4 linked regions of the Homo sapiens genome follow. The protein of the gene in region 2 purifies or fractionates together with the protein of the main gene of each other region. This does not show direct contact. Each region holds a gene or a part of one and is shown on either strand. Other genes may lie near its edges.

Region 1 (3,500 bases), on a different chromosome or scaffold from region 2:
CTATGTCAAACTGCTTATATGATGGATTACCTACATTTCCCCATCCTAGTTTAACTAGTCTTAAGATAGATCACTTGTGGAAATAGTTGATATCTTAAATGAATCTTCTCACAAGTCAATGTCAATGACTGTGGGATTTGAATGCCCAGGCAGCCATAGCGCCACAGCTAATGACTGCCACCATGTTTAACTCCCCGGTAGGAGTTACACTTAACCTGTCTCAGCTATACATATTGGAATAATTACCATAGCAACAAAGCCACAAGGGGATTGGATATTTCCCTCCATTCCCTTTGACTTTTGGCAATGTTCTTTGGAAGAAGTTCTTTAGACCTGACTGCTCTTGAGCCTAGGCCTTGTTCTTTCTCTGTCTTGGAAAACAAAACACAACAAAAAAACAGTACCAAAGAAACTATTAATCATTTAAATTTGCTCTTTTGGTTTTGTTTATATCCAAAGGCATTCTATTTGAATAAAGCATGTCAAGGTAGCATCAGTCAAAATTTGATTCGCTATGTTTGCAGGTGATGGCTTGGACAACAGTGTAGCTTCCCCCAGCACAGGTGACGATGATGACCCTGATAAGGACAAAAAGCGTCACAAAAAGCGTGGCATCTTTCCCAAAGTAGCCACAAATATCATGAGGGCGTGGCTGTTCCAGCATCTAACAGTAAGTGGATTCTAAATGACATATATAAACTAAATATGGACAATGAACCAGTTTTTATACAAAAAAATGAGAAAAAAGTGATCCCTCTGGACTTGAAATATTTAATAAATAACTGTGTTCCCACAGTTTTTGCAAAAGTATTAGCACTTATTTCTTAGATAGATACCCCAAATGAGAAATTTTATTTAAAATTCACGATTGCGATTTTGTTAACTTTCATAAGTTAAAAGATTTAGGTGTTCATGTGCACTTGTGATTTTAAGTATGTGTTTTAATGATGTTGCTTTTCTAAGTGTGACCCTTAAGTGCTCAGAACCATCTCCTACTAAGAAGAAAGTTAGACAAACCCTAGAGAGAGACTTAATATCTTCTGATGCTTTAGTGGATCTTTACAACAAATGGTCCACAAAAATTTAAATCATGTTGCAATGGCAAGATGATCACATAATTTGCTTTTAAGTGGTTTGAATGCACTGGCTTCCATTACAAAACATTCATGTAAGTCAGAGCTCCACAGTGAAAGTTGTCCCTGTATTTAGAACTGTAAAGGAAAACAGCAATATAGAGTCAGCTCTTCCTGTGTAGTCCCTTGTGACTTTTCAAGCAGAGTAACAGTTTATATTGTCTGTGCCAGTATTGCTGTTTTCACTGCAGGAATTCTCCTGGAGATGTGAGAAACTGGAGATTTGGGGCTTTATGCCACTGGGGGATTTGTTTTGTTTGGTTATTGTTCTGAATGAATTTCATGTTCAAAATATTTATAATAATAATATTTTGGTGGATATTTTTGTAAGTGCATACCAATTTAAAGAAGAAGATACAATGAAGATTTGTGGATAAAATAATATTTTAAAAATCAACAAAATTGTTGACCAGAGGAATTTCAATATTAGAGACAAAGGATGAATTTAGACAGGTTGTAGCAAAGTTACATAGATGGATAAATGTTAAAAACTCTTGAGGGTTGTTTTTTAATATCAGGAGAAAATATTTTGTGTTACTATTTTTGTCTTAGCTTGCTTTTCCTAAAGTCAATTTTTCCTTAAATATTAAAGTTAATCTTGCATTGTCATAAACACTTGCAGAGCCTGTTTACCTTCATACCTGGGCCCACATTCAAAGCCATGTTCCTCAGTGAGTTTTACGGGTACAGAGATACAAACTCAGGGGATGTCTGCAGGTCATGTTAGTTCTGCTCCTCTGGATAGAGGCTGTGCCTCTAATAATACTCAAGGGTATAAATTAATCCAGATTTTCCAGCATCAGTGAATAAGATAAAAGCTGAGAGCAGCAGGAATAGCTAAAAAAAAAAAAAAGTTTCCTCCCTTCTCTTCTTCCCATAATAATTCCAAACAGTATCTAGACTACACTACAGTTTTTGAGTAAACTTCAGGGCTTGGCTATGCTGGAAATTAGTTGGAGATTTAGATTATTTGAGCTGTTTTGATTTTAACATCATATTAGGTTTACCTAGAATCTGATTCAGGCACCACTACTTATCTGACACCTGTTGCATGTGTGTAGATATTTCAATATCTGACTCCTGCAAATTCCCCACTGAGGATTATCAATCACTAATGAACTAGGGGAAAGAGGACTCAGGTCTTGAGGGCATATCATGAAAAACGAATGATATGACATTTAGATAAGAAGTGGCAATTGGTCAAAGGTGTGGTACAATGATGCTGATGCAATGATGCTAATATTTTATCTCCAGAAATAACCAGCTAACTCGCTGTGTGGAATGAGTTGGTGTGGTGGATAAAATCAGGTTGGCCCTGAAGTCACAATCAAATAATTTCTATTTCCTATAGACTAACAGAAACAATGAATAGATTTCTTCAGCCCCCATCTCAATCTGCAAAGGAGTTTTGGCTTTACTTGAAGCTGAGGTGCCCCTGAATAAAATATAATCAAATATTGGTTCAGACAGAATCAGGAGAGAGAGAAGCAAGCTATTTTATGCAGCCACTAGTTTTCCTGTTTTTCTAGGTTGTACCCTTGTGAAGACCCTTGCATAGAGCTACATTATCTTCTTGAAACAAACAAACAAACAAAAAACCCAAATAAACTTTCTAACAGCCCGCATGATTTTACATGCATTGCATTGCTTATATGGACTATGTGTTTGTTACTGGGGCAATTGTAATCGAAATTATTCATGAACTGCCTGATTTCTTGAGACCTAAATAATAGTCTTCAGTTTTGAGGTCTTTGCTGGCCTGTGCCACTGCCCTGGAAGGGGAAGCCCATTCATCCATGTTTCCCCAGCTTTCTGTGAATGTTTATAGGTGTTACCTTGTGGTTTCCATTGGATATTTCTACCTCCATTACCCACTCCAATGCCATCTGCTCATACAGAAATATTGATTAATGATAATGGTCTGTAGATAGCTAATTGTTCTTATAACATCATCTGAAGAGCAAAGTTAAGAGATATGTTTAAATTTTTCATCTTTTCCTTCCCCCAATGAAAAAGATTCCTTCCCACTTCTCTAATTGCAAGAGCAAATAGACCTCCAGCTATAAGGAACACCCGTTACCCTTGTTTTGTAATCCTTCTTGAAGGAATGCATGGACTGCTTAGGTAATATTTATAGTAAGGAGCTAATTTTAATAAATTCTATTTTAAAAACCTATAGAATCTAAAGAGAGTTTTGTTGTTGTTTGTCTAAATGTAAGTAACCACTGACATCTCAGTACTAATTCTTTAGTGACTTTATTTCAAGTTCTGGGAGGTCTTCAGGGATGCACAATTCATTAGGAAGACTGTACAAATTTTAAATGGTCACGTCATTGCTATGTGATTAATGCAACTTATCTAGGAAAT
Region 2 (4,268 bases):
CAACATAGGGTACCCCATCTCTACAAAAATTAAAAAATTAAGGCGTGGTGGCGGGCGCCTGTAATCCAGGCTACTCAGGAGGCTGAGGCAGGAGAATGGCGTGAACCTGGGAGGCGGAGTTTGCAGTGAGCGGAGATCGCGCCACTGCACTCCAGCCTAGGAGACAGAGTGAGACTCTGTCTCCAAAAAAAATAAAAATAAAAATAAAAAAATAAAAAATTAGCTGGGCATGGTGGCAGGTACCTGTAGTCCCAACTACTCGGGAGGCTGAGGTGGGAAGGTAGGAGGACTGCTTGAGCCGAGAAGGTTAAGGCTGCTGTGAGCTATGATCACGCCACCGAACTCCAGCCTGGGTGACAGAGTGAGACCCTGTCTTAAAAAAGAAAAAAAAAAAAGCAAAATTCTAAGAAAAACACAAGATCTACAGTCATGAAAAAGGTTTACCATTTACCACTTAAGTACTTGAAAAGTACCACACTAAAAAACATAGTAAACATAGCTGGTTTTAAAGTAATGACTTTATTAATAAATATACATCCATATGATGATGTAGATACAAATCATGAACACTACTCCATTCCCATACACATAATTGCACACGAGTAGCTCAAGTTCATGGACATAAAAACATACACAGTATCTATTCAGACTTTTTACAGCAGAGGACAGCGTGCTTATTATCAGTTAATTGGTAATTATTTTCTCCAAAATTACCTGTGGAAAAAAGAAATTCTGAAAACTTAAAAGAATCAAAGTGATCTGATTACTTTAAATCACACACTTGATTTACTATATAGCATTAAATTTTCCAAAAATTAAATACATTACATGTGAGAGCACAGATTTATATATTTGGAGGAGGGGGGAAAAAAGGAAAGATTCAGATACATCCTAGAGTTTAACAGCATACAGTTAAGCTGTAATAAAAACAAAAATAGAATAGCATCAAAATTTTTTATGTCCAAGGAAAAAAATCTTTTGAAAAACTGTTTTGAATTCTTTATATTCCTATAAAGGGACCATAAAATTTTACTGCATATAGAGACAATGACCGACAGAGTAGCAGTTATCAATAACCCCTGAATTGTTCTTTTAAAGCTTCTTAGAATATAAAGGAGAAATTTACTTTTTTTTTTCTTTAGCTCACACACTATGGTTATTTTTACACTGAATGGGTCAACTTTAACCTAATAAATGGACCCACATATATATTTTTTTCTCCTCAACTCAAAGAAACTCTATTCTTAGTTCATGAAAATAGACATGTAAATTCACACAAACATCAGTTTGGAATCAATATTACTTTGACAGATGTTTCTTTAAAAAGTAAATAAAAAATATAAAGAATTTTTAGTCTAATTAAAACATTGATTTTTTAAAATGTCCCTAAATATTAAAAATTAAACCAGATACTACTCATTTTCTTCCAATACATTGTGCCAATATATTTTTTAATATCCAATGCAAAACTCTAAAGATAGTATCAAAATCACCCTAAATACTACTTATGCAAGGTTATATCTGTCAAAAAATGAAAATTTCATCTGTTATTAGCTCATTTGCTAATATAATAAATAAGGCATGTTAAAGTACTTTTTAAAGAAAAAAGTAATGCAGACTTACTTGAATTGCAGATCATTTTCTGACCAACAGTTTAAATATAGAATAATGAAACCTATTTTGTGAAGAACAGAATTACACTGTATAAAATTAGCAATTTACCTTTCAAGAAACAATCATACAGTGGGGGAGAAAAGGCCAGTTTTCCCCAACTGATTATATTAAAGTATAGGCAACTGTTTAACATGCTATTTCAGTGTTTATCATAACAAGAGACAGTGTTAACAAAATATGCACAATGTAGTCTTTAGTTTATATAGCAGTAAAAATACTTTAAATTTTAAGACTTCATTCATGTTATCACTTAGATGTCTTTCTCTTCAGCATGGCACCGGTAAACTGTTCACAGGGAGAAAAGTAAGTGGAATCAGGAGATGCTCACCAGTGCATAGATATAATACTCCAGGTAACCGCTCAGATGAACAGTAAATTCGGCTTTCTAAATGATGTTATCCATTTACAACTGTAGCCATTTGCCCCTCCCATTTTTTTTTCCTGGGACATAGCTGCTGATAATAAACACTGTTATGAACATGCCTCCTTTAGTTGATCTCACCATTTCATAAACATGTATACAAAATTCATTATACAATAATACACCTGTTTTATCTTCTGACACACAGCACAGCACCAGTAAGTAGATGTGCTGGAGGGTAGAGGAAGAGGAATGAATGTACGAAAGGCAGGGGAGAAAGGGAAGGGTATGTATAACAAAATAAGGAAGGAAAATAAACTGAAAGGGAAATAAATGTCAAATGGACTTACTATAAAACACAATAATCAAATCTTTGACAATGGTGTGCATTATTCTATGGTAGAACATTAAACAAATGTCTTTAGAAACTGGCTTGAAAAAGATTTCTAAGCAGCCAACTGCTGAACATCATCTTGAGAAACAGCTAAATGACAGATACATGTACAGAGTAGGTAACGAACATATGAATAAAGAGGCAAGCATTTGTGTGTGTCAGAAGTTATACTGTTCTGAGTAAATTATTAAAAATCTTGTATTTTAAGCTTTTGCAAGAAAAAGCTCTTGTAGCAATTTAGCTGCCAGAATGTTATAACTGATTATGTAACCATCCAACATCGTTCTCTATGGTTTGTGCAAAGCTAATATTGTTGAGGTCACTGTCTTAGACGCCAGTGCACATAGTCCCCACATACAATGCAACACCTCTTACTGTAAAGAGCAGCATAAAGTCCAGCTCAATTGTGTCAGGCATCACTGGAACACCTGAAGGCTTGCTGCTTTTTTCCTGATAAAAAAGGTATGAAACATGACATCCATTTGCAATCAGAGTTTGCATTAATAGCAAGCCCAAAAAACACAACATGTGCTCTTTTAAAATTTTAATTATTTTAAAAGTTTTTGGGTCCTGCAATTCTACATTTTAATCTCAAAGGCATTTAAAATCCCAAATACAAACATTGTAACTTTAAAGTTAAGTGGAATTTTTTCAAGTCTGAAGTTTATAATATTTTATTTAGAACAAACTCAATAAATAAAATGTGTAACAAGAAGTATTACTTTCAGAAAGGAAAGAAGAAAGATTTCCCTCTGTCCCTACTATACATATCTACCTAATACTTTTTTTCCTTTCTATCTTGCTTCTAAAGCAAACATCATTGGGGGAAAAAAAATCTTTTGGATGAGATGGTCTCACTGGACCCACAATAAGATTTTTAATTAAACTAACCAACATATTTTTTACATGTTTCATGCATAGATGGATTCCTATATGCTTCTTAATATTTGGGTTCTGATGGTCGGGAAACTGCATTCTGTTTATACCAGTTTTACAGTCTACCATTCAATTTGTGTCCTTTGGTAGATATCAACCTGAAAACACAGTAAGTGCTAATGCAATGGGACAATTTCTGAGAAAAACTAAAAACGTTCCAAATAAATGAGCAACATCAATAAATGGTTTTATTTATTTATTTATTTATTTATTTATTTATTTATTTATTTGAGACGGAGTCTTACTCTGTCACCCAGGCTGGAGTGCAGTGGCACAATCTTGGCTCACTGCAACCTCCGCCTCCTGGATTTAAGCAATTCTCCTGCCTCAGCCTCCCCAGTAGCTTGGATTACAGGCGCCCGCCACCACGCCTGGCTAATTTTTATATTTTTAGTAGAGATGGGGTTTCACCATGTTGGCCAGGCTAGTCTTGAACTGCTGACCTCAAGTGATCCGCCTGCCTCGGCCTCCCAAAGTGCTGGGTGTGAGCCACCACACCCAGCCAATAAATGTTTTTAAACATAATACTTTAAAACTTTCTATATGAAAGGCAAAATATAGTGACTATAGCTACATGCAAACCTAGAGAATGCTTCTTTTTCTATTATATGAAATATGCTATCCTCAGAATGCACTATATTTCACCAAAAATGTAATGTGCAGTTTTTATAAAATAGTTTAAATTTTCTGTAAATATGAATTGTTTGTAGTGTTTGGTATATATGCTCTTAGGCAATTAAAAAATACACAACCTATCACTGCTCAAAGGCAAACACTGAAGAATTATTTCAGGTATAATGGTTAAATCAATTAATGCCATGTAGATCAATAAATTACAAGCTGCTTAAACCTAAAACATTAAAAATAAGTTTTTTAACATTTGAAGTGGATGTAAATGCCAAA
Region 3 (3,500 bases), on a different chromosome or scaffold from region 2:
AAAACATAAATTTCAAAGTGAAACTAGATATGCAGTGATCCTGAAATACACCCAAAAGTGTCCTTCCTCCTCCAGTTTACCTCTTTTTCTGTAGACATCAGTGTTTACAATAAATAAAGCATTTTCTTATTGAATTTTTTTCTTTTTTGTTTAATATTGTGGTGGTACAGACTGATTTTTTTTTAAAAAAGAAAGGCTTGGCATTTCTGCTGTAGTATAAACTGTATAAGCCTTTCAGTGCTATCCTTATAAGATGTTTTAAGTTTGTTAATGCGTTTAAAAAATTAAGTATAGTTTTGCAACAGTTTTCTTTATCTGCCGTCGTTGGGAGTTAAATATCAATGATATGTAAGCTGTGGTACATGTGGGATCAACTCCCCCTTCCCTCACCAGATTCATAGTTTGTTTTGTAATTATATAAAAACATCGACATTTTAGTTCAAAATCATATCTGGAATGTGGGATATAAAACTTTCCTTCCCCGGGCAGGAATTATGGGGGTAAAACTTGAATTTAACTGTGTCTCCACTTGTGTCTGGCAGAGGTCTTGGTATGAAGGGAGCAGAGGTACCAGATCAAGCCAAGACACCTGCTGCGAACCACATGAAGGAAATAAATTAACAAATGAAAGTAAATTAGGTTTATTGTGTCTGCTGGCTTTAACATTTAAACCCTAGAATTCAAGGGGATAATCATTTGTATGCTACAGTTTTTCCTTATGTAGATAACACTAAGCTTTACACAAAATAGTCAGTGAAATCTGGTAGATTGAATTATATTGATCCTAAGGTCTATAGTGAAATACAGCTAAGAATCTCAGTCCACATTAAAGTTATGTAACTTCTAAAAATTTGCAATTAATCTATCACACGAAAGCACCTATATGGACATTTAAAGATCTGTGTATCTTGATGGCATCAAGCCAGCTTTCACATTGATAAACGCTAGGGGCATTTCTCCTGAAATGTTAGGTATATTTTAGTGTCATAACTGAAGATGTAAGCAAATTTAAAATGCTTGCTCTAAATTAAAAGGGTTCTAGCTTAAATGAGCAGCTCCTTTATAGGAAGATTTTTGTCACAGTGGTTTCGCTAAATTTCAGTTATATTAAACAAGAGAATCGCATTTTATGTAGTTGTCCTTTTGAAGCTCTTACTTCAGATCTTTTTACTGATGTTGCCAAATTATTATAGGATAAGACCAATTAGCTTACCTCTTCACCTCTCCCATAAAGCCTTTTTTTTCTTCTGCAATGTTTCTGAAGGATGAAATGTGAACTTTCTCATCTTCTCTTAAACTACTCTAGGTATCAAACTGGTTTGGAAATAAGCGAATCCGGTACAAGAAGAACATAGGTAAATTTCAAGAGGAAGCCAATATTTATGCTGCCAAAACAGCTGTCACTGCTACCAATGTGTCAGCCCATGGAAGCCAAGCTAACTCGCCCTCAACTCCCAACTCGGCTGGTTAGTTTTTTCTTTGATTGGGGGTGGGGGAAGGAATTGTTCTCCATTTTTATACTGGCTGTTCCTACATTGGGATTTTCTTTTAATTTGTTAGGCTTTTGATTGGTTAATTTCTGTATTTGATTGTATTTTTGGATGTTAATGTCACTTTGGGCTCTTTCTTTCATTTCCAAAGAGCAATCTGTTAGACTTTTTACAACGTGGGTTGTCTGGAGGTTTGCATTAATTTGTCTATTAAGTTAAGACCAAAGTAAATTGGTTAGCTTGAAGAGACCTCTAAATTCTCCTCTCAGGGATATCAATAAGTAAGTTAGACATAGTGCTTAGAGATAGTCTATTGGGATTCTGTCATTTGGCCTGTTTTATATAAAGCTTTTATCCTTGTCAGTTTTGCTGTTCCAACAACATAATGTCTGGGTCACTTATTAGCATGCATTCTATGCAGAAATATTTACTCTTCTAGCAAATATCTTATTAGAATGCTTTGGTATGCAAAGCCAGGCTATGAATATTTCTATATATTGTTTATAGTTGTTGTTCTTTATTGTTTTTTGTTGGTCTTCTTTATGATTATCGGTCATGAGCTATGTAATAGGCTTTGTTTCAGGAAATATGCATTATATCACTAATTTAAGAGTTTAGGTCAAAATACTATATTTTGGGGTGTGCCTTGTGTCATCAGTTCAGAATTTCTACATGTGAAAAAATGTAGTTAATAATGCAAAAAATATAACCTTTGTGTTTGTATGCTATGGAAGGCATGTGGTAATTTTTTTTTCCCTTTGGTAAAGGAAAGACAAGTATTTTCTCATTAAATAAGTTTGGTTTGACTTTGATTAGGGTGCACAGCTAAGAAAACTGATGATTCTAACTTAAAAGGTTACCAATTTAAATATGTTTGATCGTAATATGATTACAAACCTAATGTCTAACATTTTTTAGAGTATGTGGTATCTTTGACCACAAAGCTTGTTTGTCCACTAAAATAAGTTTTCTTACAGCGACTCGTTACTGGAGAAATGTAGGGTTCCACAGACTGATGTCTTCTGTGAGCTTCCAGATGCATAAATTTGTTATGATAAGGTCCTCCAAGTCACTGGGCTATACCCAGCACTTCTTTTGTGGCCTTCTTTTATCTAAATGGAATCATGCATGAAGAGTAGCCTGGGCTTTTTCAACATGGATATAATAAAACAATGTAGAATTCAATCCAGTTTTAATTTTCCCAGCACTGCAGGTTAGATTCCTATGAGGAGCATATTTACTTTTTTAGAAATATTTTGTTTTTTTCTTCCTCCATCATGGTGTGATTGACAAGGGATCAAAGCTAACAGGTTCAATAACCAGAGAGAGTTCCATCTTCTCCATCTGGTCAATTATTAAGAATTTCAGACCCAACAACACCAGTTGAACTGTGCTGCTAGGCAGACATTTTCACTTGTCTCTTTGGAAGAAGTACAATTCTGTCAACATTAGCAAAAATGCACTCAACACTCCTGCAAAGGTTATCATAATGCAAAACGATATCAAAATGACTTTTTCCTGTCCCTGGTATATCTGCATCGCAGATGGCTTAGCATGATTTATGACTAGTCCTTAGAAAAGCCCTGTGGACTTTCTTCATTACTAAATTTGTAACTATTTATTCTTTCCTAAAGCCCTTAAAAGAGAAAAATAAGCATTTTAACCCTCTATTCTGTGTTTAAGAAATATGGTTGCCTCTTATGGAATGTCAGACTATGATTACAGTTTTCTAAGGAATTTTTTTCTGGTGGCTTAAACATCATGTGACTATTCTGAGCACAAAGTAAATTATTATGGAAAATTTGAGCTAAGCCTTCCAATTGTGCGTAAGTTGTTGGAAATAATCTGCACAGGAACCCCTTTGTAGTGCTTTTTCTAAAGTAGAGGCAAAAGAAAATACTATTGTATGTGTGCAATAGCATGGAATTTTAAAAGATAAACATTTTAACAGGAAAAGTTATAAATGGGCTTTTCTGTATTTTCTTTTGCTCTTAACCAACCTAAATCATC
Region 4 (2,664 bases), about 80 Mb from region 2:
CTACACTGTTAACTGATTGAGACTCCACTGTGATTCACTTGTTTACTTAAAAACTTTTCAGGGATGTCTGTAAATTTCAGTGTTAATATGTCATGAAAAGTGGTGTGGATTGATCTAAGGAGGGACCAGAAATAATTTTTGCTATTCCAAATACTGAAGGAAAAAGATAATTGATTTATACTATGTTTTAAAAAAAAAAAAGGTATTGATGAGCCCCCCCCCCCCAGGACATTTAACCTTAAAATTTATTTTAAATGTATTCTTTTATTATTATAAGGGAAATACAGATGGCTGATAAATACCAAAAAGATTCAAAAGCAGCTTAATTTAAAAAGCACAAAGAGATTCTGGCTTACAGTGCCCCAATCTCAATGTTTTTATAGTTGCTGAGCTAACTAATGTGATTATTGAGTTTACAGATTTAAAAATTGTCACTGTTAGAGTATCTACTGTTTTTATGAAGTCAAACTTATGCTGCCTCAGAAATCCCTGGGTACTGAAATGGTAACATGGAAGTGAAGAGGTCACTTTGAAATATTGGTGAGTCACAAAGATTAAAGAAAAGGATCAGTTTGCAGATACTCAGAAAAGGTTATTGAAATAATTACTGAACAGCACATTTTCTCTCTAAAAAGTAGTTTCATATGGGTTGTATTTTTAAGATCAGATTATCATTTTGATATTTGGTCAAAATTTTGTACCTTAGGTTACTTAGAGCCAGATTTAACATCATGAACATTATGTGGCTTTGTCTTTACTACAGATATGTGGAACTGTAACCAAATATGTTGTCTCTAAAACTTGTTGATTGCAAAATACAGTTCTATAAACAAAACCCATATGTATATATAAATGTTAATTTTGCGGAAGTCTGGAAATTATAACTATAGCATTTAAGTTTGAGTCTGTATTGGACAAATAAGCACCATGCTTTTCAAATGATTTAAAAATTACTTTTATTTGCCTCTTTATTTTGATGGTGGTTGGATTTTTTTTTTTTTAATAGTAAAATCACTAAACTTGTGCAATGGTAGCATGGAAATTATCTGAGGTATATTGTATGATTGTACTTTAGCCAGGGTGGACATAGCTTAAATTATAAAAACTAAAGATGAAAGTACAAGGAAGTATAAGTTATACTTATGTAAGTATAAATTCATGCTGCCTACTTCTAAGAGAAATTTCATTCTTCATAACCACATAACATTATAATGCCACTGATTCATACGGGATTTACATTAATTCTATGGGGGAGGACACTAGAATTATTAGTGTTCATTTTCATCTAAGATCTTTATTCTCTAACGTTCTTGGTCCTATTGAAACATTGCAGTATGCAAAACTACTGCAATGTTAAACCCAAGAGAAAAGCCATTATCATGTGTATGCTGGTCATCATGATCAGTGTGGTACAATTTTTAAAAATAAACTATCATGCCCTTCATGCCATTATTTGTCTTTATTTCTATGATTTATAATCCTGATATGTGATGTGTTTGTAACACAGGGTGTGCACTTGAGCCTGGTTTTACTGTTTTTATTAGACAGAGTTGTTTATATGCTGTAACTGTAACGCAGCGAGACTGGTTCTACAGCCATGTGTCGTAATCTTGTTCCCCGTCCAAGCTGTTGTATCTGAAGGTACCCAGTTTGCACCCAGGATGAGGGAACGCATTCAAAAGTGAAATGTAAAGCCAGTGCACGAATATTATAGTAATTGAGATTTTCCCAGGCTTCACTGATACAGTTGTTTTGCATTTATTCACAATAATACAGCAGATTCTTAAATGCCGATTTTTAATTGTCTTAAATTTTGCTGCTGTTCTCATAATTAAGGACTTGAAAAATGTTTTAGTCTGTCAAGTATGTAAAGTTTGTGTAAAAACTTTTAAATGTCATTCTTAAGTTCATTGCCATAGCCATTTTCCATTTATGTCTTCATTTTCCAAAAATCAAATGCCATGTCTGATACCTTTAAGTCCATAAGCATTCAATTTTCTCATTTCCACCTTCATCTTTGGTTAACAGAATAAGTAAAACAGGGTATTATTTATTTGTAGTCTAGAAATGTTGAATATTGTTTTATTTCCTTCAAAATGTTATGATTAGTGCAGATCAGCCATGTTTATCTTTTTAAAAAATAAACAGGTTGCTTTATTTCTTAGCTTCAATGGAATATAATTATTTTTTCTCCACTCATCAAGGAGGCATTTATTTAATGTGAAGAATTACACAGAAAAATAGAAGAGCATGTTCTGTCTTGAGCTTCATCTGCAGTTACCATAGAAATTATTCATCAAACACTGTAGCTAATTTGATTAATTTAAAACCATCATCATTCAGATAGTCCCATGGAGTATCTGCTTCCATTAGTGACATCAGGAATTAAGCACATAGCAGTAAGTTGTGAGTGAGAGGTTTTGAAATAATAGCTCCCATGAGTCCAATACCTGAGACAGAAGCAGGTGCTTAAGTAAAGTACTTGACATACTGTCTGTTGGTTGCCATAAATAGGCGAACTCCAACACACATAAGCCAAAATATAATAGCTACGGGACCTGGCATATCTTGCAAGGGGCCAAAGTCCCATTTGGCAAAGCTTGCCCTCTTTGTGGGGCTTTGTAGTCTTGTATCTGCTTATCTTTACAGATTTGTTTTACATAT

What was found. The genes of interacting proteins can lie anywhere in the genome.
Region 1: the proteins of C5orf24 (region 2) and MEIS1 purify together in Homo sapiens (affinity purification with mass spectrometry; 2 studies listed by BioGRID and IntAct, with this or other methods). This does not show direct contact.
Region 3: the proteins of C5orf24 (region 2) and PBX1 purify together in Homo sapiens (affinity purification with mass spectrometry; 2 studies listed by BioGRID and IntAct, with this or other methods). This does not show direct contact.
Region 4: the proteins of C5orf24 (region 2) and SNX18 purify together in Homo sapiens (affinity purification with mass spectrometry; one large-scale study listed by BioGRID and IntAct). This does not show direct contact.

The regions. Positions count from the first base shown.
Region 1 is NC_000002.12:66,511,625-66,515,124, forward strand, and holds part of MEIS1 (homeobox protein Meis1), read left to right. Parts: intron 1-524; coding exon 525-670; intron 671-3,500. UniProt on the Homo sapiens protein: Acts as a transcriptional regulator of PAX6. Acts as a transcriptional activator of PF4 in complex with PBX1 or PBX2. Required for hematopoiesis, megakaryocyte lineage development and vascular patterning.
Region 2 is NC_000005.10:134,855,968-134,860,235, reverse strand, and holds the end of C5orf24 (UPF0461 protein C5orf24), read right to left. Parts: 3' UTR 2,880-4,268; coding exon of another isoform or gene 2,839-2,879; 3' UTR 501-2,838; downstream 1-500.
Region 3 is NC_000001.11:164,810,684-164,814,183, forward strand, and holds part of PBX1 (pre-B-cell leukemia transcription factor 1), read left to right. Parts: intron 1-1,306; coding exon 1,307-1,466; intron 1,467-3,500. UniProt on the Homo sapiens protein: Transcription factor which binds the DNA sequence 5'-TGATTGAT-3' as part of a heterodimer with HOX proteins such as HOXA1, HOXA5, HOXB7 and HOXB8. Binds to the DNA sequence 5'-TGATTGAC-3' in complex with a nuclear factor which is not a class I HOX protein.
Region 4 is NC_000005.10:54,544,423-54,547,086, forward strand, and holds the end of SNX18 (sorting nexin-18), read left to right. Parts: 3' UTR 1-2,164; downstream 2,165-2,664.